Homo sapiens: one gene and its partners. The protein of the gene in region 4 purifies or fractionates together with the protein of the main gene of each other region. This does not show direct contact. Each region holds a gene or a part of one and is shown on either strand. Other genes may lie near its edges.

Region 1 (5,229 bases), on a different chromosome or scaffold from region 4:
CGCCCTCACCATATCCCCTGGTGCTCATTAGTAGCCCTTCCTCCTCGGTGCCAGGTTTCCTAATCAAGTCCCTGGCTCCTCTCACTTCCCCTCGGGGCCATTGGGTGGAAGCTGCTCTGACCCTCCCCCTTTCAGAGGCCAGGGAGTGGGTGGAGTGATTGGTGTGGGGAGAGAATTGAGTGGCTTTTCATTCCTCTGGAGACCTGTGTGTCCAGCAGCTCCTTTGACATGGCGGGGCACACGAGAGAGAAATAAACCATTTCTCCATCAAGCAGGAGAGGAGAAAGCAGGCATGTGCAAACAAGCACACTCTTTTTTTTTTTTTTTTTTTTTTTTTTTTAAGACAGTCTCACTGTCGCCCAGGCTGGAGTGCAGTGGTGTGATCTCGGCTCACTGCAAGCTCCGCCTCCCGGGTTCATGCCATTCTCCTGTCTCAGCCTTCCGAGTAGCTGGGACTACAGGCGCCTGCCACCATGCCAGGCTAATTTTTTTTGTATTTTTAGTAGAGACGGGGTTTCGCCATGTTAGCCAGGATGGTCTCGATCTCCTGACCTCGTGATCTGCCCGCTTCGGCCTCCCAAAGTGCTAGGATTACAGGCGTGAGCCACCGCACCCAGCCAGCGAGCACACTCTTATAAGCAGCACTGAGCGCTGCCAGGAGGGTGACTAGGCAGGGCTCCCCTTCTAGGAAGTCAGAGAAAGGCATCCCAGAGGAAGCTGCCGCTGAATGGAGTCTGAAAGCTGCAGAGATAAGTCGCCAGATCACTAGGAATAGTCTGGAATCATACTGCCAGCAAAACAAAAACAAAAACACACACACACGAACTAAAAAACAAGCACCTTTGAAATCATCTAGTCTGGCCCTCTTATTTACAGACGGCAAAACAGAACCAGAGAGGCTAAGTGCTTTGCCAAAGGCCCACACAGCCTGTGCGTTGGACCTGTCCTGACAGCTAGTCTGAGTGTTCAGGCTTGGGGAGTTTGAGTTAAATTACACTTCCAGGTTGATGAGCATTGTTTCCAGCTCGGCTAAAGGTGGGCATACACGGAATCTTTCTTCTCAGCCTGATGATGATCCCGCTGTCTCTTTCTCTCGTTGGACAACCACAGGGACCCCCATCAACCGAATCCCCATCATGGCCAAACAGATCCTGGACCTGTACATGCTGTATAAGCTGGTGACCGAGAAGGGAGGCCTGGTGGAGATCATCAACAAGAAGATCTGGAGGGAGATCACCAAAGGCCTAAACCTGCCCACATCCATCACCAGCGCCGCCTTCACCCTCAGGACGCAGTGAGTGGCCAGGGCCTGGGAGAAGGAAGCTGAGGCTGGAGAAAGGGGATGTTGTAACCTAGAGGAGAGGAAGGAAGGAAATTCCTTTGTATGGTTAGCAAGATGAGTGGATTCCCGAAACAGTGGGGAGCTTTCTGAGATGAATCCCTCACTAAACCAAGTAGTGATGAGAACCACCATTTACCAAGTGTCTACTCTGTGCTGGTACTTTACTATTTCATTTAAACCTCACAGTCAACCCTGTAAAGTAGGTATGCCCCCATTTCCCACATTACAAAAATGAAGTCTCCATGGTTAAATAATTTGGCTAAGGTCATATACCAGCCAGTAAGTGGTAGAGCTGAGATTCAGACCTGGGCTTCTGTCTCTAAGACCTGTGCCCCTTCCAGGACATTGTCTTCCAAACAGCATCTCCACCCCAAGTGGCCCCTCTTACCTGATATTCAGCTTACCCAGCGGCAGAGGACCCAGAGAAAGGCAGGCAGGAAGGCCCCCTTGGATTGGTGACCTGGTTTTGTCAGCATTTGAGTTAATTACATGGGTGATGGAAGCGGTGAAACCAATAGTAGCACTGAAGAATGAGGGCCAGAGAGGAATCTTTTCTTCTGGAACACTCTGGAAGTTGTTCTGTGAAGAGTATGCAATGAACAACTGACATCAGTTAGGTAGCATGTTGTAGCTACAACCAGAATGGCAAGGTTCTTGGGTAGAGAACTGCTTCTTGGGACCTAAGACACAAAGAATGACAGTGTCTAGGTCCCATGCACAATGGGAAGAATTGCTCCTATCTGACTAGCCCAGCTCTGAATGGTTATAAGATCAAGAAGTCAGAAAGCCCTTGTAAAACATGGGCCTAATTTTTCCCAGGGCTTCAAAACAAATGTGAAAACGCCAACTAAGATGTTATTTATTTCCCCTAATGAATGGTGCTTCAAAGTAGAGCCTATTTAGGATTGAGTGGCAGTCAGAGGAGGCTGGGGCAGAGTGTCCGGCCATCCCAGACTTTTCTGCCAAGTATACCAAGGTTGCAATCCTTTGCCCTAGAGTCCTGCCCAACAGAGACTGCTTCCAGAGACCCACCAACCTCAACTGGGTGGTCTCTGGTGCTGTTTTGGATTATTCTCCCTGCTTGCTTCCTTTCCTCCAGGTACATGAAGTATCTGTATGCCTATGAGTGTGAGAAGAAAGCCTTGAGTTCCCCAGCCGAGCTCCAGGCAGCAATTGATGGCAACCGCAGGGAGGGCCGGCGGCCCAGCTACAGCTCCTCCCTCTTTGGCTACTCACCTGCTGCGGCTACTGCTGCTGCCGCTGCCGGGGCCCCTGCCCTTCTCTCCCCACCCAAGATCCGCTTTCCCATCCTTGGGCTTGGCTCCAGCAGTGGTACCAATACCAGTAGCCCTCGGATATCCCCAGCAACCACTCTCAGGAAAGGTCAGCAGGGCTCCTGGGGGAGAAGGAAGAAAGGGAGGAAGGGATGCCAGTTCCCTGTGTTCAAGACTGGGGTTTTGGGGCAAGAGGGTCAATTGTGGATTGGTCCAGCTCCAGTTCCTTTGCAGGTGATGGAGCCCCAGTGACAACAGTGCCTGTGCCAAATCGTCTGGCTGTGCCCGTGACCTTGGCAAGCCAGCAGGCTGGTACTCGGACCGCCGCACTGGAGCAGCTGCGGGAGCGGCTGGAGTCAGGGGAGCCTGCTGAGAAGAAGGCATCGAGGCTGTCTGAGGAGGAGCAGCGCCTGGTGCAGCAGGCCTTCCAGCGCAACTTTTTCAGCATGGCACGGCAGCTCCCCATGAAGATCAGGATCAACGGCAGGGGTGAGCCAGGCTCAGGGCCGGGCCTTCCCTTCCTGGAAACCCCAAGCCCATTCACGCCTCCTGGGACTGGTGGGGCAGGGGTGGTGAGGCACATACTCCTGACCTGGAAGAGGCCCCTCCAGGTTCTGCCTTCCAGGCCCCTAGAAGAGAGGCACTGAGATCTTAGTTCACCAAGCTGAGGTTGTTTGGTAGAGGGGACCACATGTTGCCTCAGGCAGTGCCCTGTTCTCTAGTAAGAGGGAAAAGCAGTTATTCACAGAGGAGGAGCCAGAGGCCTTCAGAGAGCTGCTGCGTTTCCCCACCAGCCATTACCCCAGCACCTCACTGGATGTAGGCAAGAGCAGGGCACCGTCTGCAGGTCTGGGAGGAAGACACCCCATGTTCCTGAGGCTCAGCGAGGGGCCAAGTTGCCCCGGGCTGGACAGTGGGACTCAGGAATATAGACAGAAGGAGGAAACACAAGTTTGGCAGCATAATTGACATCCTTTCCCTTCCTCTTCACATTGTTCTGGTGCCCCACATTCTCTTCCTCAAGCCACACGCCCCTTTTCCCATTCACACACATTCTTTCCCATTCTGGTCCTGATGCTATCTCAAAGCAAACATGAATGAGATGTGTGGGAAGGAGCCAGGTGTGAAGGGAGCTATACATATTCCCAGGCTGCCCCTCCTACCCCATTGCCCTTGGGGACCAGAAGGAAACTGGGAGGTAACAGCTCATCCAGGGCCAGGTACCCTGCTCCTGCACAAAGCAAAGGGCTGTTAGAAAAGACAGCTCACCGGGAAGAATTCTGAGTCTGGGGTGAGCCAGCCAAAGGCCGTGTGTGCCAGCACTTGCAGGCTTCCACAAACGCCAGCTGCCTGGGTGGTCATGGAGGGGAGGGGCTGAGGGCGTAGACTCCTCTCTCTGAGGGACTCAGAGTCAAAGGAAAGAAAGGGCAGGTGGGTCCTCAAAGTTGGGGCTGGGTCTCATTGATCTCTGATTTCCTGGGCCTGGTGTATAGTGTAGTTCAGGGTTTGCCCGTCACTTGGAAAGTGCCAGTGCAGAGTGGTGGGGCCGGAGCCGGCCTCCTTGCCTACTGTGATTCCTTTTCTCTGGGAGCAGAGGTAGTTGAGGGGATGAACTGGGTCAGTGGAAAAAGCCAGCAACAGGAGATTGGCGAGCCTGGGATCTCCTGCCATACCCTACACTCAGGAGAAGGTTACATAGATGCCTTTTAACAGCGTGAGGCTTTGACCAGGGGTGGCCAGGCAGCATCAGAGAGGACAACAGGAGTGCTGTGGAAGGCTTGACCAGGCCCACTGTCTCCCTGTCCCCAGCAGAAGACAGAGCAGAGGCCTCGGCTGCAGCACTGAACCTGACCACGAGTAGCATTGGGAGCATTAACATGTCTGTGGACATCGATGGCACCACCTATGCAGGTGAGGCCCTGGAGCTCTGGGGGAGGCCCACGTGGCCGCAGCTAGCCACAGGGCAGCTCTGCGGCTGGCCCTGCCTCTTACCCTCTGTCTGAACACCTCCCACAGTGGCTTCCTTTTTCCTGGTCTCAGAGTTGCAAAGGTCAAGTGGTCCTCTGGACTAGTAGACTGTGGATTGTTAACAGGATGATAGGTCCCTCCCACTTTGGCAGAAACCCTTCACCTAACCCTTTTAGACCAGTGGTTGGCTCGTTAATTGAAGAAGTCAGTCAGTGTCCCACAATCCCCAGGTCTTCTCATGCACAGCCTTTCTCTGACTGTAATTCAGCTCTTCTCTTCCTTTTGCAGACTGAGACACAGGCAAAGGAACCCCAGTATAGGAGAATCAGCTTACATTGTTAAGCTCCCTGCCCCCCAGTCTTTTACAGTTATCTTTTCCTAAACCTAATTTGGCAACAGTGTTTTGTTGGTTGGTTGATTTCGCACCTTTACAGAGTCTTTCTAAGGGTTTAACTTAGTATTCATGACTGGGCACGGTGGCTGATGCCTGTAATCCTTGCACTTTGGGAGGCTGAGGCAAGAGGACCACTTGAGCCCAGGAGTTTGAGACCAGCCTGAGCAACATAGCAAAATCCCAAATCTACAAAATACAAAAAAAAATAGCCAGGCATGGTGGTGCACACCTGTGGTCCCAGCTACTTGGGA
Region 2 (5,229 bases), on a different chromosome or scaffold from region 4:
AAGTCTCATCTCTACCAAGAAAAAATAAAGAAAAAACAGAAATGCCAAAGGAGACTGTAATGATTAGCTAGGACTGGAAGACAACTGAACAACTGGTTTAACAATTAGGGGAAAAAAGTATTACTCCTCTACTTCATTGACTGTACATACACACTCATTTCAGATCTAACAAGACAAGGATGTTTATTATCATGTCTATTCAACTTAAAGTCCTAGCCAAGTGCAGCAAGACATAAACAGAATAAGATTGCAGAGGAAAGGAAAAACTCATTATCATAGACCTGAGTGTATGTACTAAAATCCTAAAGAACATACAGATTTAGCAAACTTTCTGAATACAAAATCAGTTGTATTTCTACACACCAGCACAGCCAATCACATTTTGAAGGCACTATTTAGAATAGCATATATGAAGGCACTATTTAGAATAGCATATACCTAGGGCCAGGCGCCGTGGCTCACGCCTGTAATCTCAGCACTTTGGGAGGCAGAGGCAGGTGGATCACCTGAGGTCAGGAGTTTGAGATCAGCCTGGCCAACAAGGTGAAACCCTGTCTCTACTAAAACTACAAAAATTCGCCAGGTGTGGTGGCACGTGCCTGTAATCTCAGCTACTCGGAAGTCTGAGGCTGGAGAATCACTTGAACCCAGCAGGTGGAGGCTGCAGTGAGCCGAGATTGTAAATCTAATAAAAAAGAAGTAAAACCTCTACAGAGAAGAAATAGAGATGATGTAAATAAATGAAGGAGGCAGGACATGGTGGCTCACGCCTACAATCCCAGCACTCAGGGAGGCCAAGGTGGGAAGATTGCTTGAGCTCAGGAGTTTGAGACCAGCCTAGGCAACATAGTGAGACTGTGTCTCTATTATAAGTTTTTAAAAATTAGCTAGGTGTGGTGATGCATGCCTGTGGTCCCAGCTACTCAAGAGGCTGAGGCAGGAGAATCGCTTGAGCCTGGGAGTTCAAGGCAGTAGTGAGCTATGATCATGTCACTGCACTCCAGCCTGGGCCACAGAGCAAGACCCCTTGTCTCAAAAGTTAAATAAATAAATAACGACATTCCATGTTCATAGATTAGAAGTAAACAAGGTCAATATTGTAACAATGTTAATTCCATCCAAAGTAATCAGTAGATGAAAGGCAATCCCAATCAGTATCTCAGAACTTTTTTTTTTTTTTGTGGAAATTGACAAGTTGATCTAAAAATTATATGAAAATGCAAAAGGCCAAGATACAAGACAGTCCTGAAGAGAAATGAGAAAGTGGGATGACTGACTCTATCAAGACTTAAAGTATAAGGCTAGGGGTAAAACAAAGACTGGCACAAGGGTAGGTAGAAAAATAGACCAATGGAACAAAACAGAGTCTAGAAATGGACCCACATATATACAGACACTTAAATTAGACAAAGACGGTGCTGCAGAGAAATAAGGATGGTCCTTTCAATAAATGTTGCTAAGAGAAATGGGTATTTCTACAGTAAAAAACAACAACAACAACAACAAAAACCACCAACACCACCAAACACAAAAAAAACTAATTTTGATTCCAACCTCACACCATATACAAAAATTAATTTCAGGTGGTTTATGGATTTACATATAAAAGTAATAATAAAATAATAAAGCTTCTAGAAGGTAGCACAGAAGAAAATTATCATGACCTTAGGTTAGGTAGGCAAAGATTTCCTGAATACTACACAAAGTATGCTAACCACAAGGAAGTAGAATGGCAAGAGCAGGACACTTTTTTGTTGCAACACATACATGACAGACAGCTTGTATCTAGAACATATAAAGAGCGTATTCAAATCTCTAAGAAAAAGACAACAACTTGGGGCCAGGTGTGGTGGCTCACGCCTGTAATCCCAGCACTTCGGGAGGCCAAGGCGGACGGATCACCTGAGGTCACGAGTTCGAGACCATCCTAGCCAACATGGTGAAAACCCATCTCTACTAAAAATACAAAAATTAGCCGGGCATGGTGGTGGGTGCCTGTAATCCCAGCTACTTGGGAGGCTGAGACTGGGGAATTGCTTGAACCCAGGAGGTGGAGGTTGCAGTGAGCCAAGGTCACAGCACTGCACTCCAGCCCGGGCGACAGTGCGAGACTCTGTCTCAAAAGAAAGAAAAAAAAAAAGACTGTACAGTAAAAAGTAAATTTCCTTTTTATCTCAGTAATGATTGCCAGTTTTTAATATATCCTGTAAGAATTATTTTATGCATATTAAAAGATTTTTAAAAGCCCGAATAATAGAGGATACTATACAGTTCTGAGCCTTGTTTTTATGTAATTGCTTTTTGAGATCATTCTCATGAGTACTTCTTCAGTTGCCTTATTCTTTTTCATAGTTACATAGTATATTCCAACTTACACCAATACTGTAAGTTATTCAGTCAGCTCCCTGAAAAGATAACATGTACATTGTTTCCAAGCTGCTATTATTAAAACAATGTTACATTAAATCCTTGTATCCATTTCCCAGTATGTGTGTAGGATAACTTCCTAAAGGTAAAGCTGCTTGATCAAAGGGTGCATGTATCTCTTATGTGGACAATTCCTGTCACAAAGCCCTCTAGAGAGCTGTACCAACTGACACTCCCACCAGCAACGCGTGAGGAGCCTGTTTCTTCTAACACTGCACTTCTATGGTTTCTATTTTACGTTCAAAACTTTGCTTCATTTGGAATAGGTTTCTCTACTATAGGAAAAACTCTTGAACATGAGATTTGGCTGGTAGCCCTTCAGAAAAATGGGTAAAGGATATGAACTAAGACTCATGGAAACAGAACTGAAAATAATCATTCAACATATGAACAGATGATCAAACTACTCATAAGAGACAAAAATTAGATACCTTTTTTTCTTTGAGACAGAATCTCACTCTGTCGTCCAGGCTGGAGGGCAGTGGCGTGAGCTCGGCTCACTTGACCTCTGCCTTTCAGGGTCAAGCAGTTCTCCTGCCTCAGCCTCCCAAGTAACTGGGATTACAGGCACACACGACCACGCCTGGCTAAATTTTTTGTATTTTTAGTAGCAACCGGTTTTTGCCACGTTGGCCAGGCTGGTCTCAAACTCCGGATTTCAGGTGATCCACCTGCCTCAGCCTCCCAAAGTGCTGGGATTACAGGTGTAAGCCACCAAGCTCGGCTGGCTTTTTTTTTTTTTTTGAGACAGAGTCTCACTCTGTCGCCCAGGCTGGAGTGGAGTGGCGCTATCTCTGCTCACTGCAACCCCTGCCTCCCAGGTTCCTGATATTCTCCTTCCTCAGCCTCCTGAGTAGCTGGGATTACAGGCATGTGCCACCATGCCCAGCTAATTTTTATGTTTTTAGTAGAGACAGGATTTCACCATGTTGGCTAGGATGATCTCGAACTCCTGACCTCCAGTGATCTGCCTTCCTCGGCCTCTCAAAGTGCTGGGATTACAGGCATGAGCTGCCACGCCTGTCTTAGATACTATTTTTAACCTGTGAAATTGGTAAAAGCCCAGAGCTACAATAACCAAATCTGCTGGTGAGGCCATGGAGAAATGGTCCCTCTCATACAACGCTGAGGGGAATGCTGAGTGGTGCATGCTCTGTAGGGGGATTTAACAATATCCAGCAAAATTACATGCGCATTTAACCTTTGACCTGGGAATCTGACTTCTAGGAACTTTCCAGAGGCAAAATTGCCAAGGATGAAATGACATATGAACAAATGTATTCTTTGCAGCATTATTTGTGATAGCAGAAGACTGAAACAACCCAACATTTGTCAACAGAGGACTAAAGTACCTATGCAGTTTTAAGACCAAAGATGAGTTTCTGTGTACTGCTATGGAATGACCTCAACTATCTATTATGTGAAAAAGCAAGGTTCAAATCTGTATATACTGTCTACTACCTTAAATGTTAGAAGGTGGCGGTTTTCAGATACACTGATATGCATACCGTTTAAAAAACAATAAAGGATAATCAAAAAATAAAAATGGAGAGGAAGGAAAAATGTAGAGTGGAAAGGGATGGAAACTGAATTTTTGAGTGTATCTTGTTTTAGTGTATTTTTTTTGAAACAACTTATTGTTTCAAAGATTTTACATAATTTAAAACAGAACTATTTCAAAAAGGAAAACACAGAAATCCCTGTAACTTTCAAACATACTGAACAAACGAACCTCACTGTATATAAAGTTGGTGTACCCAAAGGACAATTAACATTACTTTAAAACACGATATATTGATTACATGTCCGTAGCATTCACACAGGGATATAAAGACAAATGAATCACAATTCTTAAACTGACTTCAGCCGTCTTAATAATGACAGTGTTAACAATGACACTGATACCGCTATTTTGAAATTGCATGGGCCAGGCGTGGTGGCTCATGCCTGTAATCCCAGCACTTTGGGAGGCCAAGGTGGGTGGATCACCTGAGGTCACGAGTTCGATGCCAGCCTGGCCAACATGGTGAAATCTCGTCTCTACTAAAAATACAAAAATTAGCTGGGCATGGTGGCGGGCACCTATAGTCTCAACTACTTGGGAGGCTGAGGCAGGAGAATCGCTTGAACTCAGGAAGCGGAGATTGCAGTGAGTCAAGGTCGCACCACTGTGCTCCAGCCTGGGCGACAAGAGTAAGACTCCGGCAAAAAAAAAAAAAAAGAAATTGCGTGTTACTAGGATCAAAGTAATTATAAACCGACATTTTTGGTGTAATACATAAAAATATAAAATCAAATAAATTACATAAAAAATCCTACTATCATAAATTTGAATTTGGAATATTATGAATTATTTATATTCCCCTTTCTAGAGGATCTGTCTATCTTATCTCTCCTAAAACTTAGACTGTAGTCTCTACAGTTCTAACTGGAAGAAACCAAAGCTTTCTGAAGAAACACCCAACTTCGGTATAGGCTAAAAATGGACTTTGGGAAGGTGGGCAAAAAGCAATGAAGCTATCTGTCGAAGACTGCTGGGATCAAAATAAAGGATACAGGAGCCAGTTTGGAACCCATAGTCCAAAGCTGGAAAAGTTTGCATATCAAAAATAATAACTAGATATTAAATAATATTAATTATCCCTCTTAAATTATTAAGAGGGATAATGATATTACGGTCATTAATGTTCATTTATATGACTGTCAGAGCCTTCTGGGCTGATGAACTCGTCTCAAAATCTTCCTCCTCTCAAAAACATTTCTCCATACATGCTTTACATCTTTTTGTCTGGCTGCTGTATA
Region 3 (5,229 bases), on a different chromosome or scaffold from region 4:
CTCAAGCTTCTTGCCTTGGTCTTACATAGGCACAGAGCCTCTTAGTCTGTGGTTGATGTGCTTATGTTTTTTTACAGCTCGTTGCAGAGAGAAAGATTGATAAAAATCTGCTTCCGCCCAAAAAGATAATTGGGAAAAACTCAAGAAGCTTGGTGGAGAAGAGGGAGAAGGATCTGGAGGTCTACCTCCAGAAGCTCCTGGCTGCCTTCCCTGGCGTGACCCCCAGAGTACTGGCCCACTTCTTGCATTTTCACTTCTATGTAAGTTCCTCATCGGGTTTTCACCTGTGCCTGCAAACCCACAACTGCCAAACTTGAGGCAGCAAACCAGGGGAGACCTCAGCTTTGAGGTGGGCTGGGGTTTGACCCTAGGTTAGAAGATGGAGGAACGTCACCCTGGTTAGGAATGCATTGTGGCCAGAAGCATGTTAGTTGACAGATTTGCCGTAAATTAGACTAAATGTGGCCACAGAGATGCTTTCCTCCACCACAAGGCATTTTGTTTAGCAAAAATGGCCTGTGGGTGTTTAAGCTAGGTTTCCATCCAGATGGATGAGGCTGGATTAGAAATAGCTGACACCTGGGATAGACTATTGTTGAGTTGTTGGTGCATAGCCCAAAACTAATTAAGGGATTAGTCTGTGATGGTGGAATATCACCATCTTGGGGCGTGTCATCAGGGTCCGCGCTGCCAGGGTGCTAAGGTTGAGGGTGGACACCTTCCTGTGATGGGAGAGTGTGTCATAGAACAGCTCTGTACTCCGTCCTTGAAAGAGGAACAACTTTCATAGGTTGCCGGTGACAGAATGCGTTGTCAGACTTTAAGAAGGGCACTTAGGCAGTGTGAAACCACAATATTTGTGCTTTTGAGACGGAGTCTTGCTCTGTCACCTAGGCTGGAGTGCAGTGGTGCGATCTCGGCTCACTACAACCTCCGCCTCTTGGGTTCAAGCAATTCTCCTGCCTCAGCCTCCCGAGTAGCTGGGACTACAGACTTGCACCACCACACCCAGCTAATTTTTGTATTTTTAGTAGAGATGGGGTTTCACCATGTTGGCCAGACTGGTCTGGAACTCCTGACCTCAAGTGATCTGCCTGCCTCAGCCTCCCAAAGTGCTGGGATTACAGGCGTGTGCCACCGCACCTGGCCAAAACCACAATATTAAATAGCAGTTCTATTTATGAGAATTTCTTCTAAGGAAAAATCAGGCAGCCGCAAAAAGGATATATGAACAAAGGTAGTCATTCCAGGATTGTAACAAAATAGTAAGGACAACCCTAAAGTCTAGTAGAAGAGGTTAAAAAAAAAAAATCAGGCCAGGTGCAGTGGCTCATGCCTGTAATCCCAGCACTTTGAGAGGCTGAGGTGGGCAGATCACTTGAGGTCAGGAGTTCAAGACCATCCTGGCTAACATGGTGAAACCCTGTCTCTACTAAGAATACAAAAATTAGCTGGGTATGGTGGCAGATGCCTGTAATCCCAGCTATTTGGGAGGCTGAGGCAGGAGAATCGCTTGAACCCAAGAAGCAGAGGTTGCAGTAAGTCGAGATCATGTCACTGCACTCCAGCCTGGGCAACAGAGTGAGAGTAAGACTTCATCTCAAAAAAAAAAAAAAAAAAAAAAAAAATCAAAGGGTACAGCCAGGCTGAGCACAGTGGCTCATGCCTGTGATCCCAGCTCTTTGGGAAAATAAAACAAAAAAGAAATCTGCAGCTCCACCATCATTATCCCAGCAGCACACCAGTCTTCCCAGCAGACACTGTCTCAAAAAAAATGCAACTTTCTTAAGCAGTATCCAACTGTATGGCTGTACTATTTTTTTTTTTTTTTTTTTGAGACAGGGTCTCACTCCATTGCTCAGGCTGGAGGACAGTGGCCTGATCATGGGTCACTGCAACCTCAAACTCCTGGGCTCAAGGGATCTTCCTGCCTCAACTTCCCAAGTAGCTGGAACTACAGGTGCATGCCACCACACCCAGCTAATTTTAAAAATTTTTTTGTAGAGATGGGGTCTTGCAGTATTGCTCAGGTTGGCCTCAAACTCGAACTCAAGCCATCCTCCCACCTCTGCCTCTCAAAGTGCTTAGACTGTAGGTGTGAGCCACTGCACCTGGCTGACTATGGTCTCATTTTTACAAAAAACAAGTTGATATGGACATATTTGTCTAGGAAAATTCTAGAAGGTTTACGTATACCAAAATGCTAAGAGTAGTTTTCTCTGAGTGATAGATTTTCAGATAATTTATATTTACTTGTTTTCCTTTTATATGATGAAGACAGGGAAGAATCCACTCCCTTTTCAGGCTCACCTTGAAGTAACCTGTGGATTATGGTCCTAAAAGCCCAGCTGTATTTAAAATACAACTTTCTTGGCCAGGTGCAGTGGCTCACGCCTGTAATCCCAGCACTTTGGGAAGGCCCAGACAGGCAGATCACTTGAGGCCAGGAGTTCGAGACCAGCCTGGCCAACATAGCGAAACCCTGTCGCTACTAAAAATACAAAAATTAGCTGCGCGTGGTGACTCATGCCTGTAGTCCCAGCTACTCAGGAGAGAGGCATGAGAGTCGCTTGAACCTGGGAAGGGGAGGTTGCAGTGAGCCGAGGTTATGCCACTGCACTTCAGCATGGGCCACAGAGACTCTGTCTCAAAGAAAAAAACAAAAACAGAAGAAACAACTTCCTTAAACTCTTTTCAGAGTAAGACAGTTGAACCTTTCTTGGATCACTAAAGAGCCTAGAAATTTGGTGGCGAGTGCTAACCTGGGGCCACTGAGCTTGGCAGGGACAGGTGGAAAAGTAGATAGCATTCACAGATGGGACCTGTGTATATGCTTTGGATTTTATTTAGCATATACCAGCAAGTATAGGGTTAGCAACATACCCTTTCGTAAACATATTTTTATACTTTCTTATGTGAGAAAAAATTTGCATTCCTTATGCAAGTCTTTCAGATAAACTTTACTGGTTAGTATTTTAAGAAATAATGTACTTTAAAGGCCGGGCGCAGTGGCTCACGCCTGTAATCCCAGCACTTTGGGAGGCCGAGGCGGGTGGATCACGAGGTCAGGAGATCGAGACCATCCTGGCTAACACGGTGAAACCCCGTCTCTACTAAAAATACAAAAAATTAGCCAGGCATGGTGGTGGGCTCCTGTAGTCCTAGCTACTCGGGAGGCTGAGGCAGGAGAATGGCGTGAACCCGGGAGGCAGAGCTTGCAGTGAGCCAAGATCGTGTCACTGCACTCTAGCCTGGGCGACAGAGCAAGACTCCGTCACAAAAAAAAAAAAAAAAGAAATATTGTATTTTAAGAAAGCTTTGGTTAGCCATTTAGGGATGAAACCTGACATGCAGTCCTTTGACGGTATTAATTCCTTGCTTGAGACCTATGCCTTTGAGGAGAGGAGGTCTCGCTGGCTGCCTCACGTGTGCCTGGCTCTGAGGGTGGAAAGGCCTGGACTGCTCTTTTGAAACTGGTTTGCCTGAGATGTGCCTGGGGCCGGCTACATCTGGTTCTGGTTTGAGGCAGGCTCCGCTACTTGTAGAAGTTTTGACATATTTGGAATTAGTATTATCAAACAGGTCCCTAGGTTATATAAATCCTAGGATTTAAAAAAGCAATTGAACCCATCGTTGGATTAAACCCACAGTTGATCAGCCATAGCACTGTTGACATTTTGGACTGGATAATTTGTTTCTGTAAGGAGCTGTCCCATGCATTGTTTAGCAGCACCCTGGCTTCTACCCACTGGATGCCAGTAGCACTTCCCCACCCAGCTATGGCAACTAAAGATGTCTCCAGACATTGCCAAATGTCCCACTGGGGGGCAAAATTGCCCCCCACTTGAAAACCACTGGATTAGATCTTCATTTGGGGCCTAAAGATTTGTCAGCCTTTTCTCCAGGCTGGGAGCTCTCTGGGGAATGTTTCTCTTAACTTTTATACTGTCTGTATCCTCTCTGAAATTGTTCCACATGTGTTCTGCCTCTTGTGTTGCTGACATTGGATAGGGTGGACCCAGGGAACCCTATTTGGCTATGGTGTGAATTTTTTTATTTTTATTTTTTGAGACGGAGTTTCGTTCTTACTGGCCAGGCTGGAGTGCAGTGGTACGATCTCGGCTCACTGCAACCTCCACCTCCCAGGTTCAAGTGATTCTCCTGCCTCAGCCTCCCGAGTAGCTGGGATTACAGATGGCCCGCCACCACACCCAGCTAATTTTTTGTATTTTTAGTAGAGACGGGGTTTCACTATGTTGGTGAGGCTGGTCTCAAACGCTTGACCTCGTGATCCACCTGCCTCAGCCTCCCAAAGTGCTGGGATTACAGGCATGAGCCACCACGCCTGGCCATGGTGTGGATTTTTAAAAATTGAGATATAATTTACATACCATAAAATTAACTTTTTAATGTGTACAATTCAGTAGTTTTTAGTATATTCACAAAGTTGAGCGACCATCACCACTATCTAATTCCAGAACATTTCATCAGCCCAAAAAGGAACCTGTACCTGTTAGCAGGAGCTTCCCATCCCTCTGTCCCCCAGCCCCTGGCAGTCACTAATCTACTTTCTGTCCTTATGGATTTGCCTGTTCTGGACATTTCATATAAATAGAATCATACAGTGTGTGGCCTTTTGTGACTGGCTTCTTTCATTTAGCCTTATCTTTTCAAGGTCCGTTCATATTGTAGCATGAATCCATTGGTCCTTTTATGACGGAGTAATAGTGTATTATTTGGATATGCCACATTATGTTTATTTATTAGCAGTTGATGGATGTTAGGTTTGTTTCCATTTTTGGCCATTGCAAATGATGCTGCTATGAGCATTTGTATGTTAATTTTTGTGTGAACTTATGTTTTCATTTTTGTTGGATATATAGCCAAAAGTGGAACCTGAGTTATATGGTAACTATGTTTGACTTTTTGAGAAACTAACAAATTGTTCTCCACAGTTGTTGCACCATTTGACGTTTCCATCGGCAGTGTATAGGTTCTAATTTCCCCACATTCTTGCTTAACACTTCTTGTCCATTTTTTTTTAAATCTTAGTTGTTCTGGTGGGTGTGAAGTGGTATCTCATTGTGGTTTTAATTTACATTTCCCTAATGACTAATGTTATTGAACCTCTTTTTTTTTTTTTTTTTTTTTTTTTCTGAGACAGAGTCTCGCTCTGTCGCACAGGCTGGGGTGCAGGCATGTGATCCCGGCTCACTGCAACCTCTGTCT
Region 4 (5,229 bases):
AACAAAAATTTTTTTAGAGATGGAATCTCACTCTGTTGCCCACGCTGAAGGGCCAGTGGCACAATATAGTTCACTGTAGCCTCAAATTCTTGGGCTCAAGAGATCCTCCTACCTCAGTCTCTCTAGTAGCTGGGACTAGGCGCATGCTGCCACACTATGCTAATTTTTTGAACTTTATTTTATTTTAGAGCTGTGATCTTGCTATATTGCCCAGGCTGACAAAAGAGCCACGTAGTAAATATAGGCTTTGTGGGCCATACAGTCTCTTTGCAGAGACTCTCTTTGCAACTCTGCAATTGGAATGCAAAAGCAGTCATAGGCAGTATTTAAGTGAATGAGTGTGTCTGTGTCCCAATTAAACTTTATTTATGGACACTGACATTTTAATTTCATGTAATTTTGTTTGTTGGTTTTTGAGACAGGGTCTCACTCCGTCGCCCAGGCTGCAGTGCAGTGGTGCAATCACAGCTCACTGCAGCCTTGACTACGCAGTCTTAGGTGATTCTTCCACCATAGCCTCCTGAGTAGATGGGGCTACAGGCATGCACCACCACGCTCAGCTAATTTTTTGTAGCCATGGGGTTTTGCCATGTTGCCCAGGCTGGTTGGGAACTCCTGGGCTCAAGCAATCCACCCACCTTGGCCTCCCAAAGTGCTGGGATTGCAGGCCTGAGCCACGGTGCCTCGCTTGCATTTATTGTTAAGACCTGTAAGAGTGTTGTTGCTCTGGCGTAGATATAACACATCTGCGACTTGAGATTTTTCTATCAGTTAGATTTTTGGTGGTATATCAGATTGCACTTTCATCATTAGTAAACTAAGAAATTGGTTCAATTTGTTCTGTAGCAAATCAAATTCAAAGTCCACAGAGGCCACTTAGTTTGGACTTTTCATGCTCAGATCAAGAAACCAGTGCAAGAAGTTGCTCTTAAGTCAATTTTAAAATCTTACATATAGTTGTCAATGAGGATGTGGTGGTGGCTCTTTTACTCAGATTAGATGCTCTCTTCTGTTAACTTTTGACTTTCCTGAGCAGCATCTTTAGGGAGAGAGAGCCGAAAAGAATTCAGAAAAACTGTAGAAAAAATTGATTCCAGCCAAGTGAGGAGGTGAAGTCTCACTCTGGAATATGCAAGTTTCCAAGATATGGCTACCTCTCTCAAACATGGTTACATGTGGAAAGGAAACAAGACTCATGGAGAGTTCATTTTTTATTTGAAGAGCTATGAAACATGAAGAATGGCAGATTATAGATTTTTTAAGAAATCAGGTTGTTGCAGTTAGATTTTAAGCATAAACAGTCAACCAAGTTTACCAAATTTTATTAACCCGTAATATGCTCTGATATTTTGTGTTTTTTTCTTTCTTTATTTTATTATTATTATTTTGTTTGTTAAGATTTGAATTGTTGGCCGGGCGCAGTGGCTAATGCCTGTAATCCCAGCACTTTGGGAGGCCGAGGAGGGTGGATCACTTGAGGTCAGGAGTTCAAGACCAGCCTGGCCAACTTGGTGAAACCCCATCTCTACTAAAAATATAAAAATTAGCCAGGCATAGTGACAGGCTCCTGTAGTCCCAGCTACTCTGGAGGCTGAGGCAGAAAAATCGCTTGAACCCGGGAGACGGAGGTTGCAGTGAGCTGAGATCGTACCACTGCATGCCAGCCTGGGCGACAGAGCGAGACTTCCTCTTGAAACAAAGATTTGAATTGTTGAGAGCCATAGGACTGTAAATATAGCTGTGGTTTCACATTTTAGTATGTTGTAAAATTTGTACTTATGCAAGGAAATAACACTGAAATCTTACTCATTCTTAACAGGGTGGAAGAATGAAAGAAAAGAAAGATGAAAGGATGTTGAATCACTTTGCATGGCTGTATGATGGAAGGAAACGGAACTGAGAACTCCTGCAGTAGAACACGTGGATGGCTTCAACAAGATAATGATGCTAAGCCATGGCTTTGGAAATTCTCTAATTGCTTTTCTCGTCCTGAGCAGACGCTGCCACATAGTCCCCAAACGGTAACTATATGCAAGACTAAGGATGTAGCAGATTCCTCATCCAAATAGATGAGAGAGGTCCATTTGGTCTGGGATACAGTCTCTCATCCTAGAGTCTGTGCCACATTTTTCTGTAGATCTTGCCTGTATTGCCTCTTATACCACATTATAATGTGAGAGCACAGCACAATTTTTTAACTCTTCTATTTCACTTTGAGTAACAGTAGATGCCTTGAATATTTAATGTTAAAATTTGGGAAAGATTTCTTCCTCATTAAAGTCACAGGTAACAAAGATTAAAAATCCACATTGTGGAGTAAAATCAGAGGAAAATACAAAATATGTTGTATTTTACTGTAGCCCTCTTGAGTTTTGAGTCTATAATCTAGGAAGGGTTGGGAAGAGCTTATCCACTGCCTGTTTTTTATTTCGAGATTTCTCTTGAATATTTACTTCTCAGTATACATTTATGTCTCTAACTTCTTGCTTACTCATTGTGATTTTGACATTTTCTTTTTTTTTTTTGAGGTGCAGTCTTGCTCTGTGGCCCAGGCTGGAGTGCAGTGGTGCGATCTCGGCTCATTGCAACCTCTGCCTCCCAGGTTTAAGCAGTTCTCCTGCCTCAGCCTCCTCAGTAGCTGGGATTACAGGCCTGTGCTGCCATGCCTGGCTAATTTTTGTATTTTTAGTGGAGACGAGGTTTCGCCATGTTGGCCAGGCTGGTCTTGACCTCCTGACCTCAAGTGATCCTCCCGCCTCAGCCTCCCAAAGTGCTGGGATTACAGGCGTGAGCCACCGCGTCCAGCCAATTTTGACATTTCCTGACTTCATGCACTCATGTTACCACCTTTCTATTTCTTATTTTCTATTGTATGTGGGATTCAAGTGAGACTGTAATATAATTTTATATAAGGGTATTAACAACTTTTATTTGATTTTATTTTTTGAGACAGAGTCTCGGCTCAGCCCCCTAGGCTGGAGTGCAGTGGCACGATCCGGGTTCACTGCAACCACTGTCCCTAGTTCAAGGGATTCTCCCGTCTCAGCCTCCCTAGTAGCTGGGTTTACAGGCACTCGCCATTATGCCTGGCTAATTTTTGTATTTTAGTAGAGATGGGGTTTCACCGTGTTGGCCAGGCTGGTCTTGAACTTCTGACCTTAGGTGATCCACCCGCCTCGGCCTCCCAAGTGCTAGGATTACAGGCGTGAGCCACCGCGCCTGGCCGGGTATTAATAACTTTTTAAAAACCAGTTTAATTCTCTATTTTCTCTAGGTTTTCACTATATAGTTGTCTTTGTTGCAAGACATCAAGTAATTTGGGTCATTTTAGGAGTGTTTTATTTTAGAGACAGTTGACAGTGAGGGTTGGCATCAAAAGCAAGGCTTCCTGGGATGGGGTGGTAGATCTGGTCCTCATGGAGTCACACAATTCAGAATTACACGGTCAACTTTACAGATCTTGAAACTCAATTTTGTCAGTGGCATGCAGAATGGAGTAGGTTCAGGGGATCAACTCATAGTAAGCCTGCCTGTATGAGCCTGATCTGTATAAATCAGAATACCAGTGTGTTAATTTCAGTCTGAACTATAATTACCAAGAGGGCAGTTCATTGGCTGGTCAGCCCGTTGCTGTTATCTCCCTTTTAGGGAAAGTTTAGCTGAAAATTCACATTTCTTCCAGATGAGCCTATGCTCCCAGGTGAGTGTAGAATCACAGCAAAGGGAGTGGAATTTTAGGCGTCAGATGGACCCTCATATGCTGTGAACGGTGAGCACGTCTCAGTCACTGTAGCAGGGCCCCCTCTTCATCTTAATGTCTCTTGCAGTCAGCCTGTGAAGGCTGATGAATTCAGTCCCCTTTCAGTGGCTAGGTACTGTGCCAGGTGGTCTATGTGCTCTATCTTATTTTATCCTCCTAGCAACTCTAGGAGGTATATTGTATTCCCAGTTTATGGATGAGGAAACCAAAGTGTAGGTTAAGTAACTTACCCAAGGTCATACAACTATTGAGTATCAGATTCTAACCCAGGTCTCTGCCACTGATGCTCTGCTCAGAACCTTTGTAATATACTGGCTTCCTGTGTCTGTGTTGGAGTCATGTGGCAAACTATTTGTCTTGGATCTTTTTCTTGGATAGTTTTCTAATTCTCTAAATCTTTTCACTGGCTGCAATATAATTGTCATTATGGCTTTAGGTCATGATATCTTAGGGTTTATGAAATGTCATCAGCAACACGGATGGGCCATCTGGGTAGATGGCTGATCTCATCTGTGTTTGAAACTTTACTCTTTTCCTTTGGGGGATCTTACTAAAACCCCTTATGGCCTGACCACAGAACTATTAAGTATTGTCCTCAAACCACTGTGTGTGTTAGCCATCTTTATTGAATGCTGTTTGTGAGGGGTTGTTTTCATACCACCTATTTTGTCTTCAGAAGATTCTGTGAGGCAAGGGGAAATTACCAAAAGGAAGTTACTGAGGCATGGTGGCTGCTAAAGATGTAAACAGGCCCTCCCACCCCAGTCTGTTTCAATTCAGGAAGAATGTAGTCTTAATTTTAGTTGTGTGTTCCAGTGTTCATGTCCTGCAGACCTCTCTGAAGAATGTTCCTGGTTTTAACTAGCTGTGATTCCATTTTGTTCAGTTATGATTTAGTGATGTAACAGAATTGAACACTATTTCTGTTTGTGCATGCAGTAAGATATGAGTAACCAAAAAACCACGGACCTCATAAAATTAATTTATGTTCTGATTTTCTTTTCTCAGAAAGAGTACATGGAGAACAAGAAAGTTGCTGTGGAACTAAAGGATGTACCATCACCCCTTCATGCTGGCTCTAAGCTTTTTCCAGCAGTCCCACTTCCTGATATTCGTTCTCTTCAGCAGCCTAAAATACAGCTTTCTTCTGTCCCCAAAGTAAGCTGCTGTGCTCATTGCCCTAATGAACCCTCCACTTCGCCAATGCGTTTTGGTGGTGGTGGTGGCGGTAGCGGAGGTACCAGTAGCTTGATTCACCCGGGCGCACTGTTAGACTCGCAAAGCACCAGGACAATCACGTGTCAGGTAGGGTCAGGGTTTGCTTTCCAGTCTGCATCTTCACTCCAGAATGCCTCAGCTAGGAACAATTTGGCAGGCATTGCAAGTGACTTTCCCAGCATGTGTCTAGAGAGTAACCTGTCTTCCTGCAAACACCTGCCCTGTTGTGGAAAACTCCACTTCCAGTCATG

What was found.
Region 1: the proteins of MARF1 (region 4) and ARID3B purify together in Homo sapiens (affinity purification with mass spectrometry, with the first as the bait; one large-scale study listed by BioGRID). This does not show direct contact.
Region 2: the proteins of MARF1 (region 4) and POM121 purify together in Homo sapiens (affinity purification with mass spectrometry, with the first as the bait; one large-scale study listed by BioGRID). This does not show direct contact.
Region 3: the proteins of MARF1 (region 4) and NISCH purify together in Homo sapiens (affinity purification with mass spectrometry, with the first as the bait; one large-scale study listed by BioGRID). This does not show direct contact.

Annotation. Positions count from the first base shown.
Region 1 is NC_000015.10:74,588,710-74,593,938, forward strand, and holds part of ARID3B (AT-rich interactive domain-containing protein 3B), read left to right. Parts: exon of another isoform or gene 1-1,110; coding exon 1,111-1,294; exon of another isoform or gene 1,295-1,352; intron 1,353-1,746; exon of another isoform or gene 1,747-2,397; intron 2,398-2,441; coding exon 2,442-2,725; intron 2,726-2,850; coding exon 2,851-3,105; intron 3,106-4,425; coding exon of another isoform or gene 4,426-4,428; coding exon 4,429-4,527; intron 4,528-5,229. UniProt on the Homo sapiens protein: Transcription factor which may be involved in neuroblastoma growth and malignant transformation. Favors nuclear targeting of ARID3A.
Region 2 is NC_000007.14:72,930,994-72,936,222, reverse strand, and holds part of POM121 (nuclear envelope pore membrane protein POM 121), read right to left. Parts: intron 1-5,229. UniProt on the Homo sapiens protein: Essential component of the nuclear pore complex (NPC). The repeat-containing domain may be involved in anchoring components of the pore complex to the pore membrane. When overexpressed in cells induces the formation of cytoplasmic annulate lamellae (AL).
Region 3 is NC_000003.12:52,458,585-52,463,813, forward strand, and holds part of NISCH (nischarin), read left to right. Parts: intron 1-77; coding exon 78-260; intron 261-5,229. UniProt on the Homo sapiens protein: Acts either as the functional imidazoline-1 receptor (I1R) candidate or as a membrane-associated mediator of the I1R signaling.
Region 4 is NC_000016.10:15,635,882-15,641,110, reverse strand, and holds part of MARF1 (meiosis regulator and mRNA stability factor 1), read left to right. Parts: intron 1-1,819; 5' UTR 1,820-1,877; coding exon 1,878-2,021; intron 2,022-4,768; coding exon 4,769-5,229.